Linked DNA regions of Homo sapiens: all the other regions are linked to region 3. The links come from fine-mapping of genetic effects on gene expression. A gene starts in region 3. Each other region holds a variant in brackets. All regions are shown on one strand. Distances are between the middles of the regions.

Evidence for each region. PIP is the estimated chance that this variant, and not a neighbour inherited with it, causes the effect.
Region 1: its variant is the best candidate, but not a certain one, in a credible set for the expression of PCSK6 in atrial appendage (GTEx, PIP 0.84).
Region 2: its variant is the best candidate, but not a certain one, in a credible set for the expression of PCSK6 in pancreatic islets (PISA, PIP 0.68).

Annotation. Positions count from the first base shown.
Region 1 is chr15:101,445,583-101,455,651 of GRCh38, reverse strand. All of the region lies in intron 1 of PCSK6 (proprotein convertase subtilisin/kexin type 6), which reads left to right. Among named protein-coding and RNA genes, the nearest start is that of PCSK6, 39 kb to the left of the region's middle. RefSeq lists enhancers at 2,594-2,888, 3,905-4,638. The variant T/C (reference allele first, on the strand shown) is at 4,546.
Region 2 is chr15:101,522,969-101,533,037 of GRCh38, reverse strand. It overlaps LOC124903567 (a long non-coding RNA gene), which reads left to right and starts at 4,664. Exons shown (of 2, transcript XR_007064784.1): 1 at 4,664-4,721; 2 at 5,178-6,273. RefSeq lists an enhancer at 2,061-2,719. The variant G/A (reference allele first, on the strand shown) is at 5,400.
Region 3 is chr15:101,484,346-101,494,414 of GRCh38, reverse strand. It overlaps PCSK6 (proprotein convertase subtilisin/kexin type 6), which reads left to right and starts at 4,708. Exons shown (of 22, transcript NM_002570.5): 1 at 4,708-5,041. The coding sequence starts at 4,745. LOC124903566 reads left to right here and starts at 5,262. Exons shown (of 2, transcript XM_047433427.1): 1 at 5,262-10,069. It overlaps LOC107987228 (a long non-coding RNA gene), which reads right to left and starts at 4,648. Exons shown (of 2, transcript XR_001751730.2): 1 at 4,091-4,648; 2 at 376-4,027.

The DNA.
Region 1 (10,069 bases), 39 kb after region 3:
ACTGGGAGCTGCCGACCTCAGCAGGGCAAGCTGTCACAAGGCCAGCAGCATAGGAGCTTGGTCACTGTGCCACCTGGTCAGCAGGCCTTTGAAGCCATCATTTGGGATAGGCTCCAGGATAAAAGGAAGCTGAGCTTGCATGGTGTTTGGCTGACACTCTCACCACCCATGACTGTCAGTCCCGGTCAGGTGACTCTGGCCGTCCCTGAGATGATTGCCACCTCCTTCCTGTGTCCTTGTTCCCTTTAAGGGAAACCACACAATAGAGAGGGGCCAAGGATGGGAAGCGCTTTCCGGAGCTAAGAGCTGTTAATAATAACAGCTGGGCAGCACTGCCGTGCTTGGCTGTGCCTTGGGGTCGGCTATGCCTTCTCCCTCTCAGGCCTCCAGATGCTGCTGGTACACTGGAGCCATAGTCCCAGCATCCTGAGTGACACAAGAGAGGTGGGAAAGGTGGGGACAGAATGCAGAGGAGAGTTTTTTGTTTGTTTGTTTGTTTGCTGTGGTCAAATACACATAATAGAAAATATATCATCTTACCTGTTTGTAAGTGTATAGTTTGGGGCATTTAGTATTTTCACGTTGTTATGCAACCATCACCACTGTCCATCTCCAGAACTTTTTTATTTTCTCAGACTGAAACTCTGTACCCTTTTATTTATTTATTTATTCATTCATTCATTCATTCATTCATTCATTCATTTTTTGAGATGGAGTCTCACTCTGTTGCCCAGGCTGGACTGCAGTGGTGTGATCTTGGCTCACTGCAACCTCCGCCTCCTGGGTTCAAGCGATTCTCCTGCCTCAGCCTCCCAAATAGCTGGGATTACAGGTGCACGCCACCATACCCGGCTAATTTTTGTATTTTTGGTAGAGGCGGGGTTTCACGCTGTTGGCCAGGCTGGTCTCTAACTCCTGACCTCATGTGATCTGTCCACCTGCCTCGGCCTCCCAAAGTGCTGGAATTACAGGCAGAAGCCACTGTGCCTGGCCTGAAACTCTGTACCCTTTACACACCAACTCCCCACTCCTCCCTCCCCCACAGCCCCTGGCAACCACATTCTGTCTCTATGAATTTGGCCATTCCAGGTACCGCATACAGGGAGAATCGTTCAGTATTCGTCCTTAGTGCCTGGCTCATTTCACTGAGCACAGCGTCCTCCAGGCTCATCTGTGTTGTAGCATGCATCAGAGTTTCCTCCCTTTTTCAGGCTGAGCCATATTCCATCGTGTGTCCCTGCCAGGTTTTGTCGATCCACTCAACCAGCCACAGACACCTGGGTTGCTCCCACCCCTTGGCTTTTGTGGAAAATGCTGCTGTGAACACGGGTATGCAGATATTTGTTCAGAACCCCGTTTTCACATCTTCGGGTACAGGAGGTATATATTTTTAAGTGAAAATTTGAAGATTAATTTTTCTAGAATTCCTTTTGATTTCCCTTGGGATAACTTGCTCTCAAGTGATGGTGTTTTAGGTATTAAAATGTGAATTTCCAACATGTCTTTCATAAAGACAAAATCTTATTTTTAAAAACCTTGTAGCCTCCTCCAACATGACCTCCCTTGGCCAAGTAGCCATGAGCTGCAGCCCAGCACTGACCCTTCTTTCTGGGGAGTCCAGGAGGGGGCCTGGCAGGAGCCAGACGGGCTCCCCCTGACTGCCTTGGGTGCTCAGTGTAGTTTGTTCTCTGATCCATGATGTAAGCAGCGTGCCCAGGTGTGCTGTGCACAGCCTTTGGTGCTCAAGGTCACAGACACAGTCCACTCTTCACGAGCAGAGCTGCCCTATGCTGAGAGTAGACCTGGACTCGTACCGGAGCCTCTCTCCCCTGGCAAATTCTCTAGATGAGACTTTCTTGAGGATAAGGCACCCCCTACTTCTCGCATACTCAGAAAGAAAAAAGTAAACAGTGGGCCTCCTCAAGTTGGGAAAGTCTCAACCAAATGTCTCGATCCCCACTTTCCAGGCGACAGGCTGCCTGTAGCCTGCAGGCATGTGTTAGGCAGGCTACACAGTGGTGGTAACATGTACAATGAGTTGCCATTATTAAAAACTCGGGAGAGCGCATGTCGGATCCAAATGCTGGCTTCTCTGGAAGAGTTCAGGAGATCTCGCAGTTCTGGGTTCCTGGAGCCTCCGCAGGCTCACCTCCTCCCTGACATGGGGTCCCAGGCTGGGCCCTGTGGGCATCGGGGGTACCTCACCCAACTAGAGAGGCCAAACATGGCACAGGGAAGTTAGCGAGCAGCAGGGAGATGTGGCTCAAATCCATTCCCACTAACACATCAGCTGCACAGGGGCAGCCTGCGGGGAGCAGGGGCGTGTGCTCTGCCTGGGGGTGAGGTATGGGCCCTGGGCACATGGGGCAGGGCCAGGCCTCAAGCAGCCTCCCTACCCCAGAGGTCACCTGCCCTTGAAATACACCTCATTTTCTGTCTCTTTTACAAAATAATTCCTGGATCCCACGGGCCCTCCTTTGATGGGAGGAAGGAATGGGGCAGCTCTGAGAAGCAGTCTGTCGCCGCTTCTCAGCATGGGGTTAGAGAAAGAGTTTTGTCTTCAGTTTAGACCATACATTCTTTAAGCTTTATTTGGGAAAGGGGCTAAAAGGTCTGGTTACCTTGTTTTATTACAATTAAAAATTTCTTTTACAATTTTTTGAAACAATCACAAACTTACAGAAAAATTGAATGCACAGGGCAAAGCTCAACTGACCCAGCGCAGAGAACCTGGTGACCCCGGCCCCGCCAGCCCCAGTGCTCCAGTGTGTCCTTTGCATAAACAAGGACTGTGTCTGCAGAGCCGTGCAGCACAGCCATGGACACCGGGGAATTCCACCGGTCTTTATCAGTTGTAAGGGCCCCTAATGTAGTAACATGTTCCATCTGTGCTCTGTGGGTAACCAATCTGCCATGTCCTGTGTCTTCACTTTCCCTGAGTGGGCAGCCTGGTTATCTGCCTGGACTGACATCTGGAGTAGCCTGTTCCCACCCGTAGCCCCACGGGCTCGATTCCACGTTCCCCCATGTGAGCGCCCTCCTCACCTTCTGAGTTGCAGCAGTGCCTTGTTCTGGGCCACCCCGGATCTTCCCACCCCACACACACCATGTTCTTCCCCATATGATGACTTTAGACTGGAATTTTTCAGGAAAAAGAAGAGTTTTACAGCTTATCTTAAAATTAAAACAAAACAAAACAAAAATGAATACTCAAGAGGCATTGGATTTAGGAATCCGGTAAAACAACTAATTCCAGACAGCCGTAAAGAAACCTGCAACCAGGAAATGATTTAAAATGGAGATCTTCAAAGTCAGGATTGTAGTTTTTTCAGGTAGCTTTTTGTAGACCTTGAAAATATAGGCCGAGACCACATGTAGAAATTAAACGTTCTCATCCGAAGCCGGACCATTTGGTTTGGCGACTTAAGGGAAGAGAAAAATGAAGTTTGCTAAGTAAGAATTAATGATTTCTCAGGAATTTTTAGGATGTTGAACAGCTTAATTGCATAGTTTGGGTGGATATGTGTTGAAGAAAGTAATTTTAGGAGACTGGGAAATTGTGCAATCATCTTAACTTGGGTCAGGATTGTAATTATTGCAATAACAGAATGTTGCTATGTGTATATGTGACTGAAATGGGAAGCAGTTTTTAAAAAATGCTTTAAGAAATAACAACAAAATGTCCATTCTCTCTCTCTCTTTCTGGACTTCCTTAATTATAAATACCAGGTAATCCAGTGCTGGCTAAATATAGGTCCAGTGGTCATCTATATTTATAACGTTTTTTTCAGGCGGAAGTCACTAGAGCAATACAGAATTAATTTGGTGTGTAGGTTTTTATAGAGTCTAATTAGTTGTGTTTTTCTTAAGCAAACCAACCGGGATCAATAACATTATATAACTGAACTCGGACGACCATGACTTTTAGACATAGACTCTTCCCAGAAAGCCAAGGCCCTCGGCAGATGCCGGCCCTGAAGACAGACAAGCGGCTCCGGAAGCAGGCACGCTGCAGCTGCGGAGCGGACGGGGTTTGGAACATCTGTTTCCAGCCAAGGGCAGGCTTTGGGAGTGATAAAGTACAGTTTTTTTTTGCAAAGTCAGAAGCCTCATCTGCAGTCCATTCATCACTGAGGCCTTGAATTGAGACATTCTGTGGCTGCTTATCAGCTGTTCCCGTGTGGAAGGGTTTGGCTGGGCTGGCCTGGGGAGGTGGGGTGGGGATTTTGCAGACTTACCAAAGTATGCGCTTAGCCGACCCACCCCCACCAACAACGCAGCCTGCTCGAGGGCTACGAACTGCACCTGTGTCTGCAGTCACGTCCATTGGAGAGCTGAGTGGGCGGGTGGACCTTTGGAACTATTTGATGTCATTTGGGGTAGATTCGGCGTGCTTCTCGGTGACTTTGCTGCAAATTAAACATGTAAAGTAGATTGGGCTTTCCTCCTCCATTCCTCAGGATCTTCAAAAAACATTTAGTCTTTTCTGGCAGAGTGAACCCGAGCTGGCAGCGCCCACTGAGATTTTGTTTGAAGCCAGCTACA[T/C]TCACATTTAAAGAAACGACATGATGGGGGAGGCCCTTTCTGTAAACCCCAAGCCAGGCCTTTCCCCTCGTGAGGGTTCCTACCCCTCCCTTGTGTGGCCCTGCAAGCCGCTTCTGCTTGTCCACACCTGCGCCCGAGAGTTCTTCTCATGGCTGGTGCGTGCCATGAATGAAGGGCACTGGCCAGTGGAAGGGAGTGCCCGGCCAGGCCTTGCCTGCCTCAAGTCCTCAGACCAGAGAGGCCAGTGGGGGTCTTGCCCAGACCATACAGCCGGGAGGTGGTCTGCCTGGCTCCATAGCCTCCTCCCGACCTCACAGCTGTCCTGGGACGGGGACTGAGAGAGAGCTCAAAGACAGGACAGCAGAGCCCGGGCCAGAAGGCACTGGGGGCATGCTCACCCCACCTCTGGATGCGGGGCCTCACTGGACAGCTGGACACAGATGGGATGGGGGGAGACCTGTGTATCCTCCCAATGTCATTTGGAGACAGAAGTCTGTTCATTTCATCAGGCAGATTTCAAGCTCCTCTGTGTTCCAGACACAGCCAGGCCCTGAGAATTGACAGACAACATAGCTCCTGCCCTTGAAGGCTTATGGTGGAGGGAGGGAGGACAAAGGGTGTCATAGCCATGTCTGGGCATACAGGGCCTGGGAGGCCTGAGAGGGCTTCCTGGAGTCAGTGACAGCCGAGGGGATGGTTAAAAGCAGAGTAGGAGTTGAGGGGACTTGAGCGAGCACAGGGGTGTGAAACGGTGTGTGAGGGCAGGGCCCCTTACACTGGATGACAGAGGGCAGTGTGGGCAGGGCCAGGCCTGTGGCTGGAGAGGGGTCCTGGCTGGTCGTGTATTCTCCGAGACAAGGAGGAGTCAGGGTGGGAGTGTCAGTGCGGTGGTACGGGAGAGACTAAGAGGCCAGCGAGGGTCCAAGCAGAGGGGTGGGGCTGCCTGCACTAGGGCTGGTGCGATGAGGGGAGCGGGTTTGGGAGCCATTAAGAGCCCCCTTTGGGAAGGTTTGGTGGTGGCTTTTACCAAGACAAGGAACGCCTCAGGAGGAGAGGTTTGGGGTGCAGGATGGCGAGGGTGCAGTGTTGTTGATGCTGCTCTGGCGTGGTGGAAGTTATGTGCTGACCTAGGGGTCCTGCCAGGAGCCAGTGGATAAAGATGGTGCAGATCCGGCCCAGCCCCTGGAGGACTCAGCCATTATGGGGCCACGTGCTTGGGACCCCCTTAGGCGGGAGAGGCTCCCCAGAGGAGATGATGCTGAGCTGAGCCTGGAAGGACCCAGGATTGGTTGGCAGGAAATGAAGAAACAGCCTTCTGGGCCTGTCTTCTCGGTATCTCATGCAGTTCCTGGATACAGCTCAGCTTCTCCCGCAGAGGATTTCAGAACCCACCTCCCCAGTGGCTGTTCAGACCTCTGGAACCAGAACGTCCATCTGGGGCCAAGCCCCCACCCACATGGGGTTGCTCAAGCTACTCAGGTGAAGCTGACATGTACGAAGGTGGCGAGCCATAGATCTGGAGTTCTGAGTTAGGGCAACCCAGCAGTGGCCCCAGGAGGCTCACTCGGATGTGAGAACTGTGGGAAAACCAAGGACCTACCTGGTATGTTTCAGAGTCATTTGTTTATGAACCTTACATAAACACACACACCTGGATATGTATATACACGTGTATATGCACAGATACACACACACGCCTGAATACATATGCAGTTGGCTGTCTTTATCCACGGGTTCCACATCTACACATTCAACCAACCTCAGGTCAAAAACATGAAAAAAAAATGTATGGTGGATGTAGAAACTATTTTCTTGTCATTTTTCCTTAAACAATATGGTATAACAACTATTTCCACAGCATTTACATTGTATTAGGTATTATAAGTAGTCTAAAGATGATTTAAAGTATTGGAGGATGTGTGTAGGTTGTATGCAAATATGATGCCATTTTATATCAGGGACTTGAGCATCTGTGGATTTTGGCATCTGCAGGGTGGCCTGGAACCAGCCCCCCACGGATGCCAAGGCATGACTGTATACATATATATACATCTGTATACAAACACTTGCACATCCATATACATATGCACACACACACACCGGCATACGTATATACACGTGTATACAACACTCACACATTCTATACATCCACACATATGCACACACACTCGTATACAGACATAATGGAATAATATGTACCTGAAACATAATATAGGCCTCCCATGATTTCCTTATTGAAATGAAGGAAAGTGCACACATGCTGAGGGTACTGGTTCTCTGGGAAAGAACCTGCCGCAAAGGACAAGGACCAAGGTGCCTGAAATTCCCCATGGTAACTAACAATCTTAACCATGCCGAGAGGCAGAAGGTTCAACGGTGAAGAATCCTGACTGTTCATTGACTAAATGAATCTTGAACAGTTTCACTGCTCTGTGCCTCAGTTTCCCCATCAGTCAGATGAGGATGGTCATAACATCTACTCCCTACAGTTGTTATGAAAATGAAGCTTATTAATTCATCTGAACTCCAAGCTTGCTGCCTGGAATGGGGCATGTGCCCAGCAAGCGTCAGCTGTTGTAATGAGCCAGGGGCACTCGGTAATAGTGAGGATCCCTGGCTGGGGGACAGGTGAAGGAGGGGGAATTGCTGTTCCCCACTAACTCTGTACCCTTTTGTACCTTCCATGTTTTGTATCATGTGCACATATTACCTATATTTTTTTAAATGTCAGAGCATCTTGTTAAAGAGGATTACACTACATTAAACTCTCTTCACTGTGAGTTCTTTGATCTCATTCCTTCCAGTGTTCTGGTCAAGAACATTTAGCAAGGTTTGTAATGATGTTCTAATGATGTTATCAGTTTGATCAAGTAATGCATATAATCGCCTATCAACGTTGAGTAAAGAAACATGAGCACCCTGTATTCAGCAAATTGTTTATTTTCTTGAATGGTGCATGAGACGGGCTCTAATTAATTCATTGTGAAGATACCACGGGCACCAAAGAGAACAAGAACGTATTTAAATTTCATGTTATGACATTACAAAGACAATGCCTTGTGGACTAGCAGTCAGATTCATTGATGAAGAGCAGATGGAGGTCAGGGGAGGACACGGGGCTGAGCAGGACTGGGACGCAGCCTGGGATGGTGGAGGCAGCGCCTCCCTTCTATAATCGAGGGAAGGAGGAGGAGGCTGCCAGGGCCCTCCGATAGCGGCAGTCCGTGGAAGCCACCGCTCCTGATTCTAAAGGCGGGCTGCTCAGGCACCGGCTGGAGAAGCGGTGCGTAGTCGATGAGCTGTGAGCACGGGAGCAGAGCCAGCGCCTGGTGTGGACACCGTCCGAGGCCACAGCCAAGCAGCAGCCACCCAGGACGTCCAGGCTGCTGAGCAGGGAGGAACACCTGCCATCAGGGCAAATGCCACATAAAAAAAGAACCTCACTTTACCTGGAAGATTATTTGGAATTTTGTCTTTAGGCCGCCCCCTTCCTGAGTCCACCGCTGTCCATTTGACCCTGAAGAGGTCCTAAAAGTGTGGCAGTCATCTTAAACCCTACTCGTGTATCTGTATGTCATTTAGTATCAAATTTTGTCACCTGCTTGTCTGTGAGCAGAATGGGGAGGCTGCTGGTTTAGGAACTGGGAGCCCCACAGTGTGACATAGTCTTAACCTCCCTGGGCCTCAGTATACTCATCTGTGAAATGGGGACATCTCTGTGGGTCCTTGTCACACCCTAATCTGTGAGTCAGGGCCAGAGGGCAGCCAGGTGTCCTTCATGTTCAACCAGGCCAGTGGCCACATCCCCACAGGTGACCCTGCGTGAGCCTGGGGGCCTCACAGCCTGGCATCCTGTCCCCCTTCCCCATGAAGGCACCCAGAGATGTGAAGGAACAGCCTCCCTCACTGGGGAGGGGCAGAACCTCCTCGTACCTGGGGTGGACCCTGCTGTGGTAGGTCAGATGAGAAGCCTAGAAGGGCTTAGGTGGGTGGGGAGGACGAGAGACAGCAATGGCTGTATCATAAACGCAGCATCATCCGGGCCGACGAGACTTTCAATGGGCCTGTGTTCCTGGGCAGCTGCTCCTGCCTCCTGCTGTGTCACCTTTGATTCTCTCACTGGTTTTGCCCGTGATGAAAACCTCACACTCCTGACCTGGTGCCTGATGTTGCAAAGGGAGGGCAGAGGGCAGGACCACATGAGTCAGACAGAAGGACGGGGCCTCTTGGAGCATCTGACAAGGTTTATGGAAAAAGCACGTCTCAGAGACTCAATGAGATGCTGAAGGTCTAGGCTTGCAGCCGCACCTGTGTTTGAGTCACTCCGTGTATGGACCGCCACTTCCCAGCCCTAGAGAACCCTTGCTTGACATCAGAGACTTTGGTGAACTCCCCTGATACTCTCAGCAGCAAATGCTGTACATCACAGGCTGGCAGCCTTTTCTGTTTCAGAGTTCACATATGAACTCTTTGATCCTCGTGGGCTCTAGGGTCTCTGTTGCAACCACTCAGCTCTGCTATTGTAGTAGGAAGGCAGCCATGAACAGTAGGGAAAGGGTGGGTGTGGCTATGTTCCAAGAAAATTTATCAAAAAACGGTAGGTGGATATATACCCAAAAGAATTGAAAGCAGGGACACGAGCAGATATTTGTACACAGCAGCATTATTCCCAGCAGCCAAGCAGTGGGAGTAATCCACGTGTCCATAAATAGATGAATGAATAAACAAAATGTGAGATGTGCAGATAACGGAAGATTAGTCAGCCTTAAAAAGGAAGGAAATTCTGACACATGGTCCAACACTGATGAAACATGAGCACATTATGCTGAATGACATAAGCCAGTCACAGAGGACGAATGTGTGATTCCAGCTTCTTCTGCAGCTGGCTTTGCAAGGGCAGCCTTGGCTGGTGTCCCCTTCTCCCCTGCAGTGGGAGCGTCCCTCCCCGGCCCCCCAGCTCTCATGCTAGGCCGGACATAAGTGTCCAAACAGATGGAGTTCTGGCCGCTGCTGCCTCCAGAGGTGGTTGGCCTGGTCAGCATTCTGGGGACTGTCTGTGCCTTTCCTGGATCGTTCGTGGAGAACAGTTGACATCAGCCCAGACCCAGGGGCCTTTGCAAAGGACAGTCATGGCGGCCCCGGGGCAGGGGGCTGGATGGCTTTGGGACTGGCCTTTGAGGGGAAAGGTGGCTTCCCCAAGCCTGGCTTAGCTGGTCAAAGGCCAGGTGCTGCCCTGAATGGCTTCCAGGCCCCCCTGTCATGAGCCTGCTAAGGGTCAGCACTGCTGCAATTAGTCTCTTTGCCAGCAAGTTTTATTCAACTCTTCGTTCCTCCATGTCCCTGACTGGGAATTGACTCGAATGCCCAGAGTTAAAAGACCAAAAGTTACGTAACGTCTCCCAGGGATGATGGCAGCTTATGAGCAAACATGTTGATTAAACACTGCGGCAAGTTGAGACTCGGTGATTGCCTCCGTAGCTAAATAACAGCTCTAGTGCGGGTGAGGAGGAGCCTTTTGACACGT
Region 2 (10,069 bases), 39 kb before region 3:
CTGAGCCACAGTCACCCATCGGAATCTATACTAAGTGTCATAGGTATTCTCAGCTAAGGGGCAGTATTAATAATGGAAAGCAGACAGAGGAACCGTAACAGAGCCAAATGGAAGCAAGAAGGGTGGGAAACATAAAATGCGGAAACACAGATAATGATAAACGAGACCTGCACACTGAGGCTTGCGGCAGGAGCGTCCCAGGCTGGGGGCCTGTGTCACGGGTAAGAGGGGAAGTCAGGTGCAGAGGACCCCCGGGACGCCAGGTCCCCATTAGAAGCAACGGCCCAGATGTGCACAGAGGCAGGAAACTACTATGAGGTTCTGGTGCTGAGTGAACATAGAAACCCATCGAGGCCAAGAGTGAAATAGTCCTTATGTAGGTCAAGAGTACCAAACAGTACTGAGTGACAAGGAATAAGTGGATAAGCAAAACGTGGTCTACGCAGGCAAGGGAAGATGACTCAGCCTCGAAAAGGAAGGAGATTCTGACAGGTGCTACAACAGGGACAGACCTTGAGGACCTTATGCTGAGTGAAATAAGCCAGGCACAAAAGGACAAATACTCTGTGATTCCACGTATGTGAGGTGCCTGGAGTTGTCAAAATTATTGGGACAGAAAGTAGAATGGTGGGGGCCGGGCACGGTGGCTCACCCCTGTAATCCCAGCACTTCGGGAGGCCAAGGCCGGGGGATCACCTGAGGTCAGGAGTTCGAGACCAGCCTGACCAACATGGTGAAACCCCGTCTCTACTAAAAAGAATACAAAAATTAGCTGGGCCTGGGGGTGGGTGCCTGTAATCCCAGCTACTTGGGAGGCTGAGGCAGGAGAATTGCTTGAAGCTAGGAGGTGGAGGTTGCAGTGAGCTGAGACCGCACCATTGCACTCCAGCCTGGGCAACAAGAGCGAAACTCCGTCTCAAAAAAAAGGAAAGAAAGAAAGAGAAAGGAAGGAAGGAAGGGAAGGGAAGGGAAGGGAAGGGAAGGAAGGAAGGAAGGAAGGGAGGAAGGGAGGGAGGGCGAAAGAAAAAGAAAGAAAGAAAGAGAAAGAGAAAGAAAGAAGGAAAGAAAAAGAAAGGAAGGAAGATGGCTTTCAGGGGTTGAGCAGAGGTGGGATGAGGAGTTAGTGTTTAATGGCAACAAAGTTTCAGACTGAGAAGATGAAAAAGCTCTGAAGGTGGATAGCAGTGACGGTTGTACAACAGTGTGAATATACTTAATGCCACTGAACTGTACATATGAAAATATTTAAAATGGTAAATTTTATGTTACATATATTTTACCACAATAAAAATAAAATTAAAAAGGTTCAATCTAGTAAAGAAATAATTTTAGAAACCAAAATAGAATAGTGTGTCTTATACTGGGACACAAGCAAATAAAAGGACACACATTAAAATACTAGAACGCTGAGGGGGGAACGGGCACAAAAGAAAATTAAACTGGCGAAGGGGCCACGGGTCGCAGCATGTGGCAGGCAGTGCTCTCTGCCCACAGCCAGAATGCGGGATCAGGAGTGAGCAGCAAGCAGTGGGGTGACAGATGATCTCAGGGTAGCCCCCCAAGGCTGCAGGAGAGTCACCACCCCACAGCCTAGCCGGTGCCCCAGCACGCCCAACAGCCCTTCCAAACCCCCGGCTCCCAAGAATGCCCTGACAGCCGTCTGGGCTTCCCCTTCCCCTGTGTGGCCTCGTGGAGTAGAGTCCAAATCCCAGCTGCCCTGGACACGCGTCCCAGGCTGGCTGGCCCGTGGCCCATCGACACTGGGCTCATGCACACGGTAGGTGCTCTGAGAGGTTCTGTTGAGTGAGAATAAGTGACGGGAATTGAGAATGGGGAGACCTCTCCTAGCCGGGAGAAATGACACAATGCCGCTTTAGGGAAGCCCAGTGGATGATCCTTCAGATCCCCGGGGGGATAAACCTCACTTCCGATCTCAGGAGCATAGAAGTGGCCCTTTCTCTATTTTCAGTAACTGAACTCAGTTTTAATTTTAAGCGTCAATACCATCAGGTAACAAGGATTTAATCTCCACCTGGGCAGGGGCTCAGGCTTGCAGGCCAACCGGACCCTCTCTAAGCCGCCTTCTTCTCTGACCAATTCTCTGTGGCACGAGGCTCAGCCGGGGACACAGTGGCCCTGCAGTAACTGCGAGTATGCCTAGTCACCTGGCCAAGCATGAGGACCACTGCCGCAGGGAGCAGAGCAGGCCCTGCTGTGGCCTTCAGGACAGGAAAGGTGGAAAAGCCGTTTGTATACTGTGGCTAAACCCTGAGTGCGCGATACCCCTTCCAGGCTTGTAATCCACATTCCAGCCCACGGTGATTGACAGCTGGCACACAGCAGCACCCAGGGCGCCACCCGCCCTCCATGAGTGTGCTGCTGGTTTAATTGATGTGTGCAATTTTGGGGACCACTGAGTCCATCAGAATGCCAAGGAGGAAGGGGGTGGGAGGGACGGCAGGGCAGGGTGTGCCTTGCATGGGCAAAGAGGTCAGAAGTGAGCATTACATCAAGCAGGCCCGCGGCAGCTTTGAAGAGCACCGTCAGGGCAGGAGACAGTCCTCAAGCAGCAGCACAGGGCAGACCCTGACTGTGCGCACCAGGCTTCCCGCCTGCAAAGCACTTCTGGTTAATCATCAGAAAGGGAATATTGTAAAAGGGTATCAAGTGGCTCACAGACAACTCCCTGCTGAGTCACTGTGGGGAAGGGTCAGGAACCTGGAGGTGCCAAGTGGCCACAGCTATAGCCCCAAGACATGTGGCTAGGACACTGCTGGTGCTGAGCATGCACTAGCCACTGCTCTTCGCACCCAGGACACTGGGGCACTGCTCTGCCACCTGGGAATGGGGGGACGGACCCTGAAGTCTCCGTGCCTCCTGGGCATGTGGCTGCACAGCCCTGCTACCCCCCACCGGTGTCAGGGAGTGCACGTTCTTGGCCTTTTAGGCTTCTGTAGAGGGAAGCAGGGTTTTGCCTCCCACTAAGACGGTTCACTTCTCAAATGTTAAAAGGCTGTCCTGATGCTGCATAACCACAAAATAAAAAGCATCCAGAAGGCCAGGCGTGGTGGCTCACGCCCGTAATCCCAGCACTTCGGGAGGCCGAGGCGGGTGGATCACTTGAGGTCAGGAGTTCGTGACCAGCCTCGCCAACATAGTGAAACCCCATCTCCACTAAACATACAAAAATTAACCAGGCGTGGTGGCTAATGCCTGTAATCCCAGCTACTTGGGAGGCTGAAGCGGGAGACTCACTTGAACCTGGGAGGCAGGGGTTGCAGTGAGCCGAGATCACGCCACTGCACTCCAGCCTGGGTGGCAGAGCAAGACTCCATCTCAAAAAAAGCATCCACAAGAATGACCAAGTGACTGCTCAATGGCCATGGATGTTTCTGGACCCTGAGGGCCCCTGTTTTGCTGAGATGGAAATCATTGCTGACTCCTTTAATGTTGTTTAATTTTTTAAAAACCTCTTCAAGCATTCCTCTAGATTTCTGGTATTCAGAACTATGCTGTGAACACAGAAAGATTAAGGACTGTTCTTCTAATGCCTTAGACAGCCTGTGCCAATTGGTCTCAGAGTAGAGAAAAATATATTTATGCTGTGAAACCTAAATACCCAAACTAAATTCATTTTAGCAAAGATTAATACGCAGAGCCCCAATTCTTGTACAGATTCCTCAGAGCAGCACGTGCTGTTCGGCGCTTCTTCCTTTATAATAAATGGTCAGGTGTGCAAACAACTGTTTGAAGAGCCATTAGGAGTCAGTCAGCTGTGGTGTGGGCAGAGTGGGCAGTGGTATGCCAGGAAGCGCCCAGGGTTGCAGGTCTAGGGCATTGTGGAGACAGCAGCAGCATTCCTTGGTCCTGAGCTGGGATTCCGCATCCAGTTGGGCCCAAGCGTGATCTGTGTGTAGTTCCATGAGGCCTGGGTGGAGGGTGTTGGGAGTGATAGAATGTTTGGAAGGAAGTACAGGGGAGTGAGGCCTGATTCACCCAGGCTATGGGGCTGTGTGAAAATGGCCAGGCTCTTGAATGTTTGGCACATAGAGGAGAAAACTGTCATGAACAAGACTCATAGCCCCTGAAAATAGGCAGCTTGTCTTCTCTGCAAGACGGCCTGGCTGGTGTCCCTGCAAGCCCAAGTGTGAGCTGGGGGATTCGCAGGCAGGCTGGTGACACTTTCCATCAGTGGGAACCCCTCTACTTTCGAGCACCTGCCCCCGACTTCATGCAGGGAGTGCACGAGGAGTCTGCCTGGGACTGTGGATGGGCCTGAAGGACAGCCCAGCCTGGGACTGTGGGACGCAGCTGTCCAGCGAGGTGCTGGCTGGCCGGCCAGCAGCCACCACCCAGGCCCAGCTGCAGGGCTGGGTTTCCTGCAAACCGTGATTCTGGAGCAGGGTAGGTGACCCCGAACTGCCTGTTTACAGTTTTCATGCACCCTGGGGACACCGTGAGCCTCCCCAGCCCTGTGGCCTTGAGCTGCTGTATTCTAGAAATACCGGCAGCTGCCTGTCCCCTGAAGCCTCCCCACAGCTTTGAGCAATGATGAATATTGGTTAATCTCTCCTGTAAACAGCTGTTTTCCCGGCAACTGCCCAGCTCGTGTTAAATATTAACAAAGAGCCGCCTCCACAGCCGCTCACAGGGTGTCTGCTTTAAATATTTAAGAAATTGCTGTTCCTGTCCCTGAGTGACTCTTTGGCTCAAACTGTTCTGTAAGTGTTCTTGCCTCCCTGGTGACTGCGTTGTGTGAAATGTCCGACATCCCTGCTTGCTTGCTCTTTCTTCACCCATTGCTCTCTTTGTCTCTGTCCTTCCCTGTCTCTATCACTGTCTCTCTGTCTCTCTCTCTCTTAGTGAATAGTACTAAAAAATGTAAACGCTGAGGGTTGCACTCAGTCCTGGGTGCTCAGCCAAGCTGCCTGGAGATGCCCCAGGCAGGCTCCTGCTCCATCGAGATGCTGCGGAAAGCAAGTGGCCTTTAAGTGTTGCTGCCTCACACGCTCATGGTTAGGTGTGAATAGCTGGGGCACCCCACCCCTCGCCCCCATCTGGGGGTGTGTCTGCACACGTGTACTCAGGTGCCCAGAGGGTTGTGGAAATGCCGTGACCGTGTGTAAATCCTTTACATCTAAGTCCTTCTCACTGTTGGCACTTCCCATTCCCTTCAGGGTTTGTGGAAGACACGCCTGTTTTCTTCCCTGGGCTAACTGTGAAGCTCAGAAGAGGAAGAAGGGCCCGGATGGCAGATGAACCGCACAGGGCTGTGTGGCCTCAGCCCCGCAGCTGGGGAGCTCAGTGGCCTCCTGGAGGAGAAGCTGACTTTGGAGGACCTGGAACACCATGGCTGCTGGGAGTTGGGGCTGTGCGGGAGGCTTCTGTCTCTGTGTGGC[G/A]TTTGGTCATAACCACTGGACTTTGGAACATCCTGCTTAAAACCACAACTTTGGCTGGGCACGGTGGCTCATGCCTGTAATCCCAGCACTTTGTGAGGCTGAGGTGGGCGGATCGCTTGTGCTCAGGAGTTCAAGGCCAGCCTGGGCAACATGGCAAAACCCTGTCTCTACTAAAAATACAAAAATTAGCTGGGCATGGTGGCTCACACCTTGGGTGGCTGAGGCAGGAGAATCACTTGAATCCAGGAGTTGGAGTCTGCAGTGAGCCAAGATCACTCAACTGCACTCCAGCCTGGGCGACAGACTGAGACCCTGTCTCAAAGAAACAAAACAAAACAAAACAACAGCAAAAACCCCCACAACTTTACCTAGACTCATCTGTGAAAACTTCAGTGAATCCGGCCTCAAACTGTCGCTATGGGGGAGCCACTGGCAGCTGAGTTTGTTTAGATTCCTCCTTCCTGGGTGAGACCTGGGGTTGGAAACACCATTGAAATTCCCTCTAGTAATGGGCTCTGTCGTCCAGAGGAAGGGGCAAGACTCCCCCACCCCCACTTCTCACCCCTTGCCCGGGGTCTCTTCTCCCTTCCTGACCAGGAGCCTAAGGAAGGCCTCAGGTAGAAATAGAGAAGCATCTTCCTCCCTCTGGGGCCAGAGATTTCCAGCCGAGTTTTGTGAGACTCCAAGACTGCTGTGCGTATCCTCAGAGCTGCTGAGATCACCTCAAAACAAAGCCCGTTTAAAGTCACTTTCATTTATTTCAAGAGCTACTGTGAACCTCTCAGGATAAAATGAAAATGAACTTCAATTCACTTTAATTTTTAAAAGATATGTTCGTTTAATATCCTTTTTAAAATAAAAACAGGGAAAAAGACGTAGTGGTTTCAAGTTTGCAATTCCCATCCGGCCCAGGTGAGGCCACAGGGCCACCTCCCGTGAGAAGAGCGTGGCCTCAGGAGGGCAGGTGGCACAGTGCATGAGCCTGCGGCGAGTCTCGGGCTCTGCCTAGGGTCGGGGGAGGGGCTCTCTGCATCTCACTCTCCCCAGTTCTAAACGGAGAAAGTAGTAGTACCTGCCTTAGGGTGTTGGTAGAGAACTGACTTAGATCTTGCCGGTAAAACTCAGGGCCTGCAGGCGTGACCTTACAGCAGGTGGGCTACAGGCACAGTCCTGGCTACAAGCCGGGCAGCTGTCTTGTCCCAGGAGACCAGGAAAGCCTCCAAGACACCATGGGCCTATTGGTAGGGGACAAGTGGGCTTCCCTGCCAGGTGGCCTGGTGACAGGGTCATTAGCAGTTGAAAATTTTGAGAAAATGATTCTGTGAGCTGGAGGGCAATTGGACGGGTGAGGATGGAGGAGAAAGCCAAAATCCGCAACTCGGATCACTGTCAGGGCGAGGCTGGGAGTGGGGGAGCGGGGGATCCCTCCCCAGAGGAGCACAGGCTGCAAGCTGGTGGCCTGGAGGCCTGGGGGAGAGGAGCGCAGCCAGGGCAGGACTGTTGCTGGAAGTCTGTGGAGGAAGCTGCCTTGTCAGTCAGCCTCCCGACCCCAGGCACACAGCGATTACAACCTCATGCCAAAAAACAAAAACAAAAACAAAAACAATGCTCTTTTGAAAAGAAATTGAACAAACTACCAGACTGGGCCCCATCCTTAAACCTCATTTAATTTTTTTTTTTTTTTTTTTTTTTGAGACGGAGTCTCACTCTGTCACCCAGGCTGCAGTGCAGTGGCGTGATCTTGGCTCACTGCAACCTCGGCCTCCTGGATTCAAGCGATTCTCCTGCCTTAGCCTCCCGAGTAGCTGGGATTACAAGCATGTGCCAGCATGACTGGCTAATTTTAGTATTTTTAGTAGAAACGGGGTTTCGCCATGTTGGCCAGGCTGGTCTCAGACCCCTGACCTCAGGTGATCCTTCTGCCTCGGCCTCATAAAGTGCTAGGATTACAGGCATGAGCCACCACATCCAGCCTCATTTAACTTTAATTACCTTTAAGGGCCTTGTCTCCAAATACAGTTGCATTGGGGGGCAGGGCTTTGACATAAAAATCTGGAAGGACGCAAACATTCATTCCATAGCACTCAGAGAGCAGCAGCTACAGGAGGTCACTGACCCCCTATAGAACTGGAGAATGAAATGGAAAGTGAAGCTACGAGAGCTCATGAGCACGATTGCCCCTCATCCAGAAACCAGGAGTTACCCTCTGGCCGCTGCTACGGAGCCTAAACATCAACAGCTCCGCCACTATTGTGACACCCACCACCAATCTGCAGATTGCAGTCACTCTCAGCTGCCAGCTGCTCCCGGAGCTGGAGAAGGGGACATGCTTTCTCCCATGATCCAGCCTTCCAGCCTCCAGTGCCTCTCATTGGCCGGAAACTTGCATCAGGAGAAGCTGGGAATATAGTTCATAGGCTTCCAGCCCTGGCAGTTACAAATGGGAGTATGGAGTGACAAGTTAGAAGCTATGTCCACAGATAAATAAACAGCACAGATTGCAAGACAGAGAAGCGCAATCAAGAGGCAGTTATTCTTCGTCCATGAGAAAAATGAAAGGTAAATCAAACATGGGGGGGATATCAAAAAGTTGTCTGTGAAAGCCACAGTCTAATCATGAAAAAACTAAAAATATGTTATGGTTTTCTGTTTTGAGACGGAGTCTCGCTCTGTCACCCAGGCTGGAGTGCAGTGGCATGATCTTGGCTCACTGCAACCTCCACCTCCCAGGTTCAAGCAATTCTCCTGCCTCAGCCTCCTGAGTAGCTGGAACTACAGGCACCTGCCACCACGCCCGGCTAATTTTTTGTGTTTTTAGTAGAGACGGGGTTTCACCGTGTTAGCCAGGATGGTCTCCATCTTCTGACCTCATGATCCGCCCGCCTCGGCCTCCCAAAGTGCTGGGATTACAGGCGTGAGCCACCGCGCCCGGCCACGTTATGGTTTTGAGCAAGAAGAAAGTTTATGAGAGACAGAATGCATTCAGCCTTGACGCTGAAGTCATTCTCTCCTGTGGCCCCGGGAAAGCCACCAACCACAGAGAAGGAAGCCACTTGGCTGCTATGAATGGTACTTACAAAGTTGTAAAAACGCGAATGCCGTTGACTTGTTTTCAACACAGATAAAACTTAACAAAGAACAGAAAACTTAATTATGCTCATCAAACAGAATATGATGCCATCCTTGGTGCTGCAAAAGAAAAACCCACGGGATGGAGGAAGAGAAGGGGAAGAGGGGAGGGGAGACGGAGGACAGGACAGGGCTTCAGAGGCCTCCACGGTGTGCTGAAGATTCAGCAGTCTCAGCTGGATGGAAAAGCAGTAAATGCCCAAGTCTATATTGACAGGTGCGAATCTAACGAATGTGAAAACTAACAATCGTGACTGAGAGGAGGTGGGGGAGGGTAAATGAGGGAAATTCTCATTTTTTAATAGTGCAGAATCAGTAGATACTGTTGAAGGATGACAAATGAAGAGGTGACGGAATAAGCATATTGACTAAAGTTATGATGGTGGATAGATTGATTTTTTTTTCTTTTGAGACGGAATCTCGTTCTCTGTTGCGCACAGTGGAGCTCTTAGAGGTGTTGACAGAGTCTAATCGCATCCCTTTGACCTGCGAAGCTCTGAGGAGGGAGGGTTCCAACAGCCACCTGTGACCAGAGTCCCTGTCTCAGCACCCTGCAGGGCAGGTGACCTTATGGCCAATGAGACACAGGGAACATTGGCTGTTCCCTCCCTGATGAGCAGGGAGGAGCAGTTTGAGGCCATGATGCACAGAACGAGGTGGCTGTGTTGTGACTGCCAGGGAGGGAGGAGCCACCAGCAGCTGATGGGACAGAGGAGAAGGATAAAGGAGAGGCTCTGGTGACAGTACTGGGCACTGTGCATGGCGGGGGACTGCCTGCCTCCCAAGTTCTTGTTGTGTTGACAGAGATGACAAAATGTCATCATTGTTTCAGCCGCAGCTCACTGGGTGCTTGGCAGCCCACTCCCCCAGCGGGCCCAGGAGCCTGGCGGTACCGTGGCTCCTCCTAGTGCAGGCGCTCGGCTCAGTCTTCCTCATGGAAAGGCTCCAGCGGGCCCCGGTCTCACAGGGTGGCCCAGCTGGCTGTCAGGCTTGCTCCTGGGGACACCTCAGGCAAGACAGGAGAGGTGCTCTGTGCCCTCAAGCTTTCATTCATGCACTGGTTCTGTCGGCGAATGTGTTGACACGTGCCACACCAAAGCTGTGTGGTGTGGACCTCATTACCTGTCATCTTTCTAACTTGACTGCAAACTTCATGTGGGGAGGACAGTGGCCTGTGTGACCCAGATCCTCAGTGGCCAGCCCTGGGAACGGCTCATCATCTAGGGGAGGAAACAGACTCTCATCAGATCCAAGCCCAGCTCCTAGGGGTGGTGATGCTGCTATCTAAGCAGGACCCTCTCACACACCCCCACCCCACCCAGCTGCATGGCTGAGCCCTGTGGCTGGTGGCACTTCACACACATCATTCTATGGCTGCCACTGGTATTTAGTGTCCCCTCGTCCTGCCTGGCCCCTCCAACAGGGTCTCCTTTCTTCCAGGGCCCTGACATCTCGTGGAGACACTGCCTCCCACATCTCTCCATGTGAGCAGTTTCCCCAGCCCTGCCTTGCTCCTCTCTCTGCTCTGCTGCAGTGCCTTC
Region 3 (10,069 bases):
GGGAGGCAGAGGTGTAGTCTGCCCCGGATTCTCCATGTCTCAGGCCCACTGGCTGTGTGCGACCTGCATCACACCTCCTGTTCCTGGGGACCTTGGGTGTTTATCTGGGCTCAAGAAGCACTGTCAGGTCTAAGGAATGACTGTACGTCCCAACAGTATCTCACCTCTGAGTGCTGTCTGGCCCAAAGTATCCGAGGATTCTCCCGATAGAAATGTATTTGAAAATTCAACTGAGCCAGGCAATTACTTTGAAAAAGCCTTTACCTTGCTGAGGATTCACAACAGATTTTCATGAAAAATGCTGTACTCTCTGTACCTTTTCTGTAGGATATCAATAGATGCCACACTCACACATACACAGACACAGCAAATATATTTGGAAGAATTCAACAAGTTTCTTTACTGCAATATGTCTTGAAGGCATTAATATCATATGTCATCAAATCTAAGATACACCCTCAATTGGAAGATGTGTCATTATTTAACATATTACTAAGAAAAAAAAAACATCCAAGATGGAAAGTCTCACAGGAGATGCCTCTCTAAAGATGGAACAATGAAAGGCTCACAGGAGATGCCTCTCTAAAGATGGAACAATGAAAGGCTCTACTGTTGGCTGGGCCTGGTGGCTCACGCCTGTAATCTCAGCACTTTGGGAGGCTGAGGCAGGTGGATCACCTGAGGTCAGGAGTTCGAGACCAGCCTGGCTATCATGGTGAAACCCCATCTCTACTAAAAATACAAAAATTAGCCAGGCATGGTGGCTTGCACCTGTAATCCCAGCTACTCGGGAGGTTGAGACAAGAGAATCACTTGAACCCGGACGCCAGAGGTTGCAGTGAGCCGAGATTGCACCATTGCACTCCAGCCTGGGTGACAAGAGTGAAACTCCATCTCAGGAAAGAAGAAGAAAAAGAAAAAGAAAGAGAAAAGAAGGGAAGGGAAGGGAAGGGAAAGGAGAAAGAGAAAGAAAGAAAGAGAAAGAAAGGAGGGAAGGAAGAGAGAGAAGGAGGAGGAGGAGAGGAGAGAGAGGGGAGGGGAGGGAAAATAAAGACTCTACTGTCAGTACAGGGGAAAATGAGAAATAAACCCACCATGGAGAGGAACAGCAAGGAATCATCAGGTTTCTATCTTGGCCCTGGCGAGGGGAGGGAGAAATAGGGAGATGCCCTGCACTGATCATTAGAACCATAAGCTGGTTCTCACACTGGGGTCACACCATTCAGCAGATCCCCAAGGAGTTTCAGGAGCTGTGTCCCCAGATCACTGGCAGAAGCAAAAACAAACCCTCTCTGGAAGAACTCAATTTCAGTCCAGGCCAGTGATGATTGCAAAACACCAACTGTGAGATGTTTCTTGATTTGGGGATGTTAAGATGTGAGAAAATGTGCACCCAGGCATAGATGAGGACAGTGAGCCCTTATCCAGAGAAGGTCAGAGTATTCAGCCCTAACTACTCTATCCCACTGGAGAGCGCCTGGTCAGCAGTGGTCACTGTTGCCACTATTTATGGAGTGCTGACTTCATGCCAGGCTCTGGGTGCCAGGCTCTGCTCACATCAGCTCCTGTCATCCTCATAGCCCCTCTGTATGGGGACAGCAGCGTTACTATTATTTTCAGTAGGGCAAACTGAAGCAACTTTACTGAGGCTGCACATGAGTAAATGACAAAGCTGGGCTTTGAGTCCACGCTCATCTCCGGTATCCTGAAGGTGGTGTCCATCAGCTATTTTTCAAGGGATGCTAGTCTGGCCTGCTGAACCTAGCATATTGCCAAAAATGTAATTGTTCAATAAAGTGTCTATTCCCTACACAGAGGCAATTTCTGCATCAAAGTATGTCTTATCACATCCTAGAAGGCTGTGCAAAGGCTCTTGCTGTCCTGTGGTCTTGGCTGCGTGGGTATTCCCGGACTCTGGCCGGATAATCCCATGCTTGCTGTAAAGGGATCAGTGGTGGGCATGAGAACACATCATTCAATGTCTTCTCCTCTTTTCTGATTTTAGAAGATGTCAGTATAAATATCACAAAACTTCCGAAATATGACCAGGCTCCAATCACCTTTCTGGTCCATGTCCTGTCCCTCCTGAGGCTCGAAGACCTCAATCTAGGAAAGCAGCACCCCCTCCCTCCCCACAGAGCTGTGTGGACCTCGGGGGCCATGTGGAGAGCCAGAGCCTGAGTAATAAATCCCCTCCCTGCAGGACGACTAGCCAAGTTTTATTACAGATCCTATCACAATGAAAAGGGCTGGTACTCCCGTGACTGAGCTAATCCCGTCACCGTGTGAATCAATAGGAAACCCACAGGAGGCGATTCGATTCAGGATGTTCATTTTGGGAAGCTGGTCTTCCTACAACATCGGAGTCAAGATATTGCCGGGCACTTCCATGACAAATGGAAAGTTCAGCCCAAAAGGACCAGACTTGTTAGTAAAATACATTCAGATCTCTCCAAATAAAAATTCAGATGCATTTTAGTCTCCCCTCAGTACAGCAGGCTGAATCCCTTAATCTACCACATTATTATGGAAACACCCTTATCTCTGCCTGTCAAAATCACTGCCGTTGCGGGGGCTCCGTCTTGGGAGGCACCAGCTGCTTTATAATCATTTAGCTGATGTGCAGTTACATTATCTTGAAGCAGGCCACATATTTGAAGAACGGCACCAGATCCAGGATGAATCTGAGGGACATCCGGCCAGCAGGGGAAGGGGAAGAGAGGTAACACATGCTGCCCAGACATACTGCTGCTAGGTGACAATGCAATGCCTCCAACCCCGTCCCCTTGACTCAGGCCAATGTCCCTCTTCTGCAAGCCAGTTGGCTAGGCAGCCAGGGCCATGTCAGGCAGAGGCAGACTGAGAGTTCTGGGTACTGTTTCTGTCCAACAAGTATGGCCGGTTCTCCTCTAGGGCTGCCAGTTTGCATGAGGGCCTCATGTCTCTCCACTGGCAGGGGCTGGTGAGCATCCAGTCCATCTGTAGGAGGGACACACGGTGGCTGTCTTCTGCAGTGTGGGCAGGCCTGGAGTGACGGCCCAAGCAGCTGACCCCACTTGCCAGGGGAACGCAGGGAGGTGAAGTTACATCTAGTGTAGCAAAGCGAAGGCCATGTGGGACGTTGATCTCCAGGTTCCAAGATGGGCCCTTGGCAGGAGCCCTTGTGAACATGGATGTGGCCTGTTGGGATGGGGCCTCCCACCACGCCTCCTGTTCTCCCACCTCCATTAGGGGTGACTCACACCTGAAGAAATGATGAATCACGTGGGTTACAAAACCAAAGGGCTCCTGAGAGCGAGGCTGGAAAGGACCTCGGAAACCATCTATGCAGATCCTGTCCTCAGCCCATCCCCTCTCGCCCCAGCCTCTCACCTCCAGCTGCCAAGCCACAGACTCCAAGTGAATCCTGCACGCTCAACAAGAGACCGCTCCTGGAACTGACCATCAGAGAAGCAGCTTCCTTCCCACCTCAAGGCCTTCTCGACCTTTTTGTTTTACTTCCTATATTAAGCAGGTTGATGGCTTGCTTTCTGGAAGTGGGCCAGTAGGACCAATGGGTCCTGGGAGGGATGACAGAAGAGATCCAGCAGCGATCCTTACCCTTCATAATTCCTTGATTATGGTGTGAACATTTCCATCCATCTCCAGGGTGCTTCAAATCATTATCCACTGGATACCAGGCTGCTCCAGGAAGCAGGGGTGAGGATGATTCAGCTGACTTTCTACTGCTGGTCCCAGCTCAGTGGGTGCTTTTAAGAGTGTACATCGTCTAGTGAACACCTACCACACGGCAGGCCCTGGGCTCATAAAAACGAACGTTTACGGACAGCTTATTGTACAGCAAAAGCTGACCTCATCCTCAAATCAGCCCGACGGGGTAGATGCCACTGTTCCCCGCATTTTGCAGGTGGGGCGCCTGCCCTCAGCCACCACAGTCATTTGCCCAAGATCGCAGCGAGGCTAAGCGGACGGCCTGGGGGTTCACCTGCACGGCCTGGGGGTTCACCTGCGCGGCCTGGGGGTTCACCTGCACGGCCTGGGGGTTCACCTGCGCGGCCTGGGGGTTCACCTGCGCGGCCTGGGGGTTCACCTGCACGGCCTGCCTCCCAGCATGGGCCGCGGCCTCCGCCATGGGCTCCGTGCGGTGGTTTCTCGGGTACACGCTCGTGAGCCCGGCTGATGCGCCACATGCCTTTGCCCCGCTCAATGTGTCCCTTCAGCCAGGCTTGGTCCCGGGCGACCCACTGTCTTCCCCGCAGCTTCTTCTCCCTGGGACCCCGCACACGGGCGAGCCCTCCGTCTAGGGAGGCGGGCGAGGCCGCCAGGCGTCTGAGGCCCCCGCCAGGTGAGTGCGGCCTTCGGGTGTCCGGCCGGTCTAGGGAACCGGGGACTCACCTGAGACGCCGGGGCCTCCCCGCTCCCAGCAGAACTCGCGGGCCGAGGACGCCTCTGGGGCGGCACCGCGTCCCGAGAGCCCCAGAAGTCGGCGGGGAAGTTCCCCCGGTGGGGGGCGTTTCGGGCCTCCCGGACGGCTCTCGGCCCCGGAGCCCGGTCGCAGGAGCGCGGGCCCGGGGGCGGGAACGCGCCGCGGCCGCCTCCTCCTCCCCGGCTCCCGCCCGCGGCGGTGTTGGCGGCGGCGGTGGCGGCGGCGGCGGCGCTTCCCCGGCGCGGAGCGGCTTTAAAAGGCGGCACTCCACCCCCCGGCGCACTCGCAGCTCGGGCGCCGCGCGAGCCTGTCGCCGCTATGCCTCCGCGCGCGCCGCCTGCGCCCGGGCCCCGGCCGCCGCCCCGGGCCGCCGCCGCCACCGACACCGCCGCGGGCGCGGGGGGCGCGGGGGGCGCGGGGGGCGCCGGCGGGCCCGGGTTCCGGCCGCTCGCGCCGCGTCCCTGGCGCTGGCTGCTGCTGCTGGCGCTGCCTGCCGCCTGCTCCGCGCCCCCGCCGCGCCCCGTCTACACCAACCACTGGGCGGTGCAAGTGCTGGGCGGCCCGGCCGAGGCGGACCGCGTGGCGGCGGCGCACGGGTACCTCAACTTGGGCCAGGTGAGTGCGGCCGGCCCCGCGCGCCCAAAACTTTCCCGGCGGCCTCCGGCGCGCGCGAGGGGGGCGCCTCCGCAGTCCTGTCCGCCCGGCCCCGGCCCCGCGCGCGCGTGGGAAGGCTCCGGGACCGCTTGGGGACGGCGGGCGGCCGGGGCGCCCTGCGGGGGGGGGTGTCGCCCGGGGGGGCGCGCGCGGGACACTCGGCGGGGTGGGGGGGACTGGGGTCCCGCGTGGGCGCCCACGCAGGTCCGGCGCGCCGACCGCAAGTCCCCCGGCAGTGCCGCCCAACCCCGCGCTCGGAAGTGTGGCCTCAGAAGCCGGGGCGGCGCGGACACCTGCCGGGCTCCGGGGGAGTCTGGGCTGCCTCAGGCGTCGCGCGCCGTCCGCCGCTGGGTCCTGGGCGCCCACCCGGCTCTCCCCCGCGGGGGAGCGGCCCCTCTGCCCTCGACGGGCGGCGCGAGCTCCGGACCCGGTGCGCGCGCCAAGGCGGCCGCGGCCGCTGCTTGGGTGACATGAGCGTGGCCCGGCGTCTCGGGGACTCGCGCTCCCTCGGTGTCCGCGGCTCCCGGGGGTAGATGGCCGGGAGCCTGCACCCTGGAGCCCGGCCGCCGTCGGAGAGGCCTTGGGACAGCGCAGGGCCGGGGGTCCTGGGTTTAAAACCTCTCCAGGAGCGGAGGGAGGGCGCTTTGTGTGGGGGCTTCTGCCGCGGTTCTGATGGCCGAGCGGTGTGACCTTTGGCAAGTCGCTCCCCTGACAAGCTCCTTTGCAGTCAGTGGCAATGTCTACACCGCTGGGTTGTCGGAAAGATCTAATGCTGCGTTGCCACAGAGCCTGGACCGGGGCCTGACCCTCACCGGCCCCCACGGGGCCCTCCCAGCCCCGCAGCCCTCGGCTGTCCCCTCTTCTGTCAGTGAGCAAGCAGGCCACGCCCTGGGCACAAAGGCGGCATTACCCTCAAAGGACCTCCCGGCGGGTCCCTTTTTCCTCTCTCAACCAGCTACCGGGCTGAGGGGCGGTGAGTTGGGGTTGATCCATGTTTATGGCTCCTGGAGAGGCCGTTATTTTGAGGTCACACCAGGGGACCTCTCAGTGCAGTTAACAAATCTACAAACTACACACTCAGAGGGTTAAGTGAAGTGACAGGGAAGCACCGACTCATAACTCTAAACCTTAGTGCCAGGCAGTGTTAAATGTAGTTTCATCGTTATCCGTGGCAGAAGCCAGCAAGGTGTGGTGGCGTCCCTGATTGATAGAAATGACATTAGTTCTGCATCCCAAGCCCCACGTTGATGTACTATTAGGTGTGTGGCTGGAGGGGTGGATTCCACCATTCGAATGAAGGAATCTTCACAAGGCAGGTTCGAGTTTACTGAAAGAATGCTAGCACATCTTTGGAGACCTTTTAAATATATGCATATATATATATAAAATGTTACATATATACACATATACACACATACATATACGCACATGTATATCCATATAGATATTTAGTTTTTTTAACCACTCAAGGCCCTCCAAACATCCTGTGATTTCAGATTTTGCCGTCGGGTAGCACTGACTTCGTTTGTCTCTGTAGTTCTTGACTCTCCCTGGCTGATTGTCCAGGCTGAAGAAGGTGTTCCTCATGTTTGCGTAGTGCCCCTGGCTCCTGCCACACTTCGCTGCTGTGCCCAGGTGGCCCAGCAATTTGTCTTCAGCTAAAAGTGACTCTTAAACTACGCGATAAATTACAAAGTGCCTGGGTTTTGGGATTCTAAAATTAAATGAGCAGAATGGAGCTGAAATTGAGCTGTGAGCTCACACTGCAAGAGAGAGGCAGAGAGGCACAGGTAACTCTCCCCGGAAATTTCTATCTGTGGGAATAAAAATGCCTAACCCTTGGCCATGCCGCCCCTTTGAGACAACCTCTGTCAGGCTCACTGAGTTCTTAGTGCAGTCTGCTCTCCTGGTTTTGCGGATGGGAGAGAAGATTCGCCCCGATGCACACTCCGTACCCAGGATATTCTGGGGAGTTAATCGGGGTCTCCCCAGCTCTGTCTAGTGCAGCCAGCATGAATGCCACGCAGCCCGGTCACTCAGGCATGGTGCTGGCAGTGGCACTGCGGTGACATTCACTAACAGAGATTAGCTGGTTGGGGATAGGAGCTGTCTCAGAGGCTTGTGTGTGATTACTCACGGAGGGCCTATTACTCTTTATTCCAAAACGAGCTTTTCTTTCCCCCCTCTAAGTGCACTGCTAATGTGGAAAAGGCCTGGAGCATTTGAGCCTCTACCCACTCAATAAGAACTCTTTGAAAACCTTATTTGCCTTTTTTTCAGCCAGGAGAATTTGTGACTCATAAATAAGATGTAGATATTATTAGCTTTGACTTACAGATGAGTAAATGGGGGTGAAGTAAGGGAAGGAAGCTGTTTGTGTTCACATGGTACGCATATGTCACCTCTGACAGTTCCATCCCTGCTCATTTGCTTCTGCCGTATTCTCTGTTCTGAGGTCTCCTTTGTGAAACTCTTTCTCCAAGCCCTTAATGGGCAATTAGTGTTATGTTCTGTACTTGCCTGAATCGCAGCCCTGGTTTTCTCCCAGATAGTCGCTGTGCTCAAGGTTCTTGCTTGTTTTACTTTCTTCCATACAACTAATAACTGGATTCAGTTTATTTCACATGGCCCAGAGGTAATTTAGACTGGTGGTTATTCACCTTTCTTGTGTCATGGCTCCCTTTCAGCACCTGATAAAGGCTGTGGATCCTCTCCATTGTAAAATATGCATCACCAGGGACAAGACAAGACAGCCTCTCTTTGTCCCTCTACTCATCAGTCCAGGTAACACCACAGGATTTCAAAGGGAATAAAAATGTGGAAGTGTCCAATGTCATTATCGGCAGATGACATAACTACATGGATAATCCAAAAGAGCCTGGAGATTAACCCCTGGAGCTAATAAGGGAGTTGATCAGCAACAGCCACCTGCATGGCAGCACATCTGAGAAGACGAAAGAAACCATTCTTCATTCTTGCATAAAAGCTGTTAGATACGTTGAAATAGGTCTTTTAAAAAGGTGAGACTTTTATAGAGAAACATAAAATATTTAGAAGAAGGACTGAGAAAAGAAAGTTTAGGCTGGGCATGGTGGCTCATCCCAGCACTTTGGGAGGCTGAGGCAGGCGGATCACCTGAGGTCAGGAGTTCGAGACCAGCCAGACCAACATGGAGAAACCCTGTCTCTACTAAAAATACAAAAATTAGCTGGGCTTGGTGACACATGCCGGTAATCCCAGCTACTTGGGAGGTTGAGGCAGGAAAATAGCTTGAACCTGGGAGGCGGAGGTTGCAGTGAACCGAGACCGCACCATTGCACTCCAGCCTGGGCGACAAGAGTGAAACTCCGTCTCAAAAAAAAAAAAAAAAAAAAAAATTTAAATAAATGGAGAGATGCGTTGTGTTCATGCATGGGAGGGCTGGCTCTCATAGTTGCCCCAATTTAATCTGCAAATTCAATGTAATCTAGTTTAAGCTGTGACAAGATTTAATGTGGAATATGAAATCACACAAATGAATTATAAAATTCATATGGAAGAGTAAGGTCCAGGAATACCTCAGACAACTCTGGGAAAGAAGAGGAGGAGGGGAGTTGTGGTAACGACAGTCCAGCAGTAGAGTCAACTCAAACCCAAGCATGTGTGGGAACTTGTATGTGTGAGCTGAAGAGTTACAAATAGATGGGGAAGGATGGGCTATTTACTAAATGGTGCTGGGAGAACAGGCTCTCCCCATGGAAAAACAATTAGATCCTCACATTACACAACAGTACATTCCAGATGGGATTAAAGACTGTATATAAAACTTTAGAAAGAGCTGCAGTGGAATACCTTTGTCACACCGGGAAAGGAGTCCCTACACAAGTTATGAAAATAAATTTCAAAATGAAGAGACTGATACATTAAGATAAAAATTCTATGTAAACAAAGGCATCCTAACAGAGTTAAAAAGCAAGAATAGACCAGGAAAGTATTTACAATATATAACAAATACATTAGTACACAGATTATTTTGAAAACTATAAATCACTAAGAAAAAAAGATACACGCCAGGTAGAAAAATGGGGAAGTTTATGAATGGAGAAGTCAATGAAGAGAAATCCAAATGACCAGTAAACATAAGAAATGATGCCCAGCTTCACTCAAGTTCGCTGGGGGTTATTGGAGCACTGCAATTTAGGCAACGATGAGATACCATTTCACACCTATTGGATTTCCCGACACGGAAGAGTGTTAGCATCACGTGCTGGCAAGGATATAGAGCAATGGGAACTTTCAGATGCTGCTGGTGGAGATTGGTATCGTTTGGAGAGCAATTTGGCGATACACGGTGAGGCTGGACTTGCTAGTCCACAGCCAGACATATCCTGGAAGAACTCTCCCACGTGTGCACAAAGAGACTTGTATAAGAATGTCCATGCAGGCGTTTTTTTAAATGAAGGAAAACCCACCTTCCCTGAAGTAGAATAGAGAACTAAATCAAAATAGTCACACCATGCAAGACTCTACAGTGGTTAGAAATGAATAAACCAGATCTATATCTACACAGATACATCTCTCAAATAGTGTTGAGAGAGAAAAAAGGCAAATTGTAGGTGTCCAATGTGATCATATTCATGTAAACGTTAAGAAACACACAAAGCAGGCCGGGCGTGGTGGCTCACGCCTGTAATCCCAGCACTTTGGGAGGCAGAGGCGGGTGGATCATCTGAGGTCAGGAGTTCGAGACCAGCCTGGCCAACATGGTGAAACCCTGTCTCTACTAAAAAAATATGAAAATTAGCTGGGCGTGGTGGTGCACGCCTGTAATGCCAGCTACTCAGGAGGCTGAGGCAGGAGAATGGCTTGAACCTGGGAGGTGGAGGTTGCAGTGAGCTGAGATGAACAGGACTGCACTCCAGTCTGGCCGACGAGTAGAGTGAAACTCTGTCTCAAAACAAAAACAAAAACAAGCAAAAACAAAGCACAAAGCAATACTGTATTAATTAT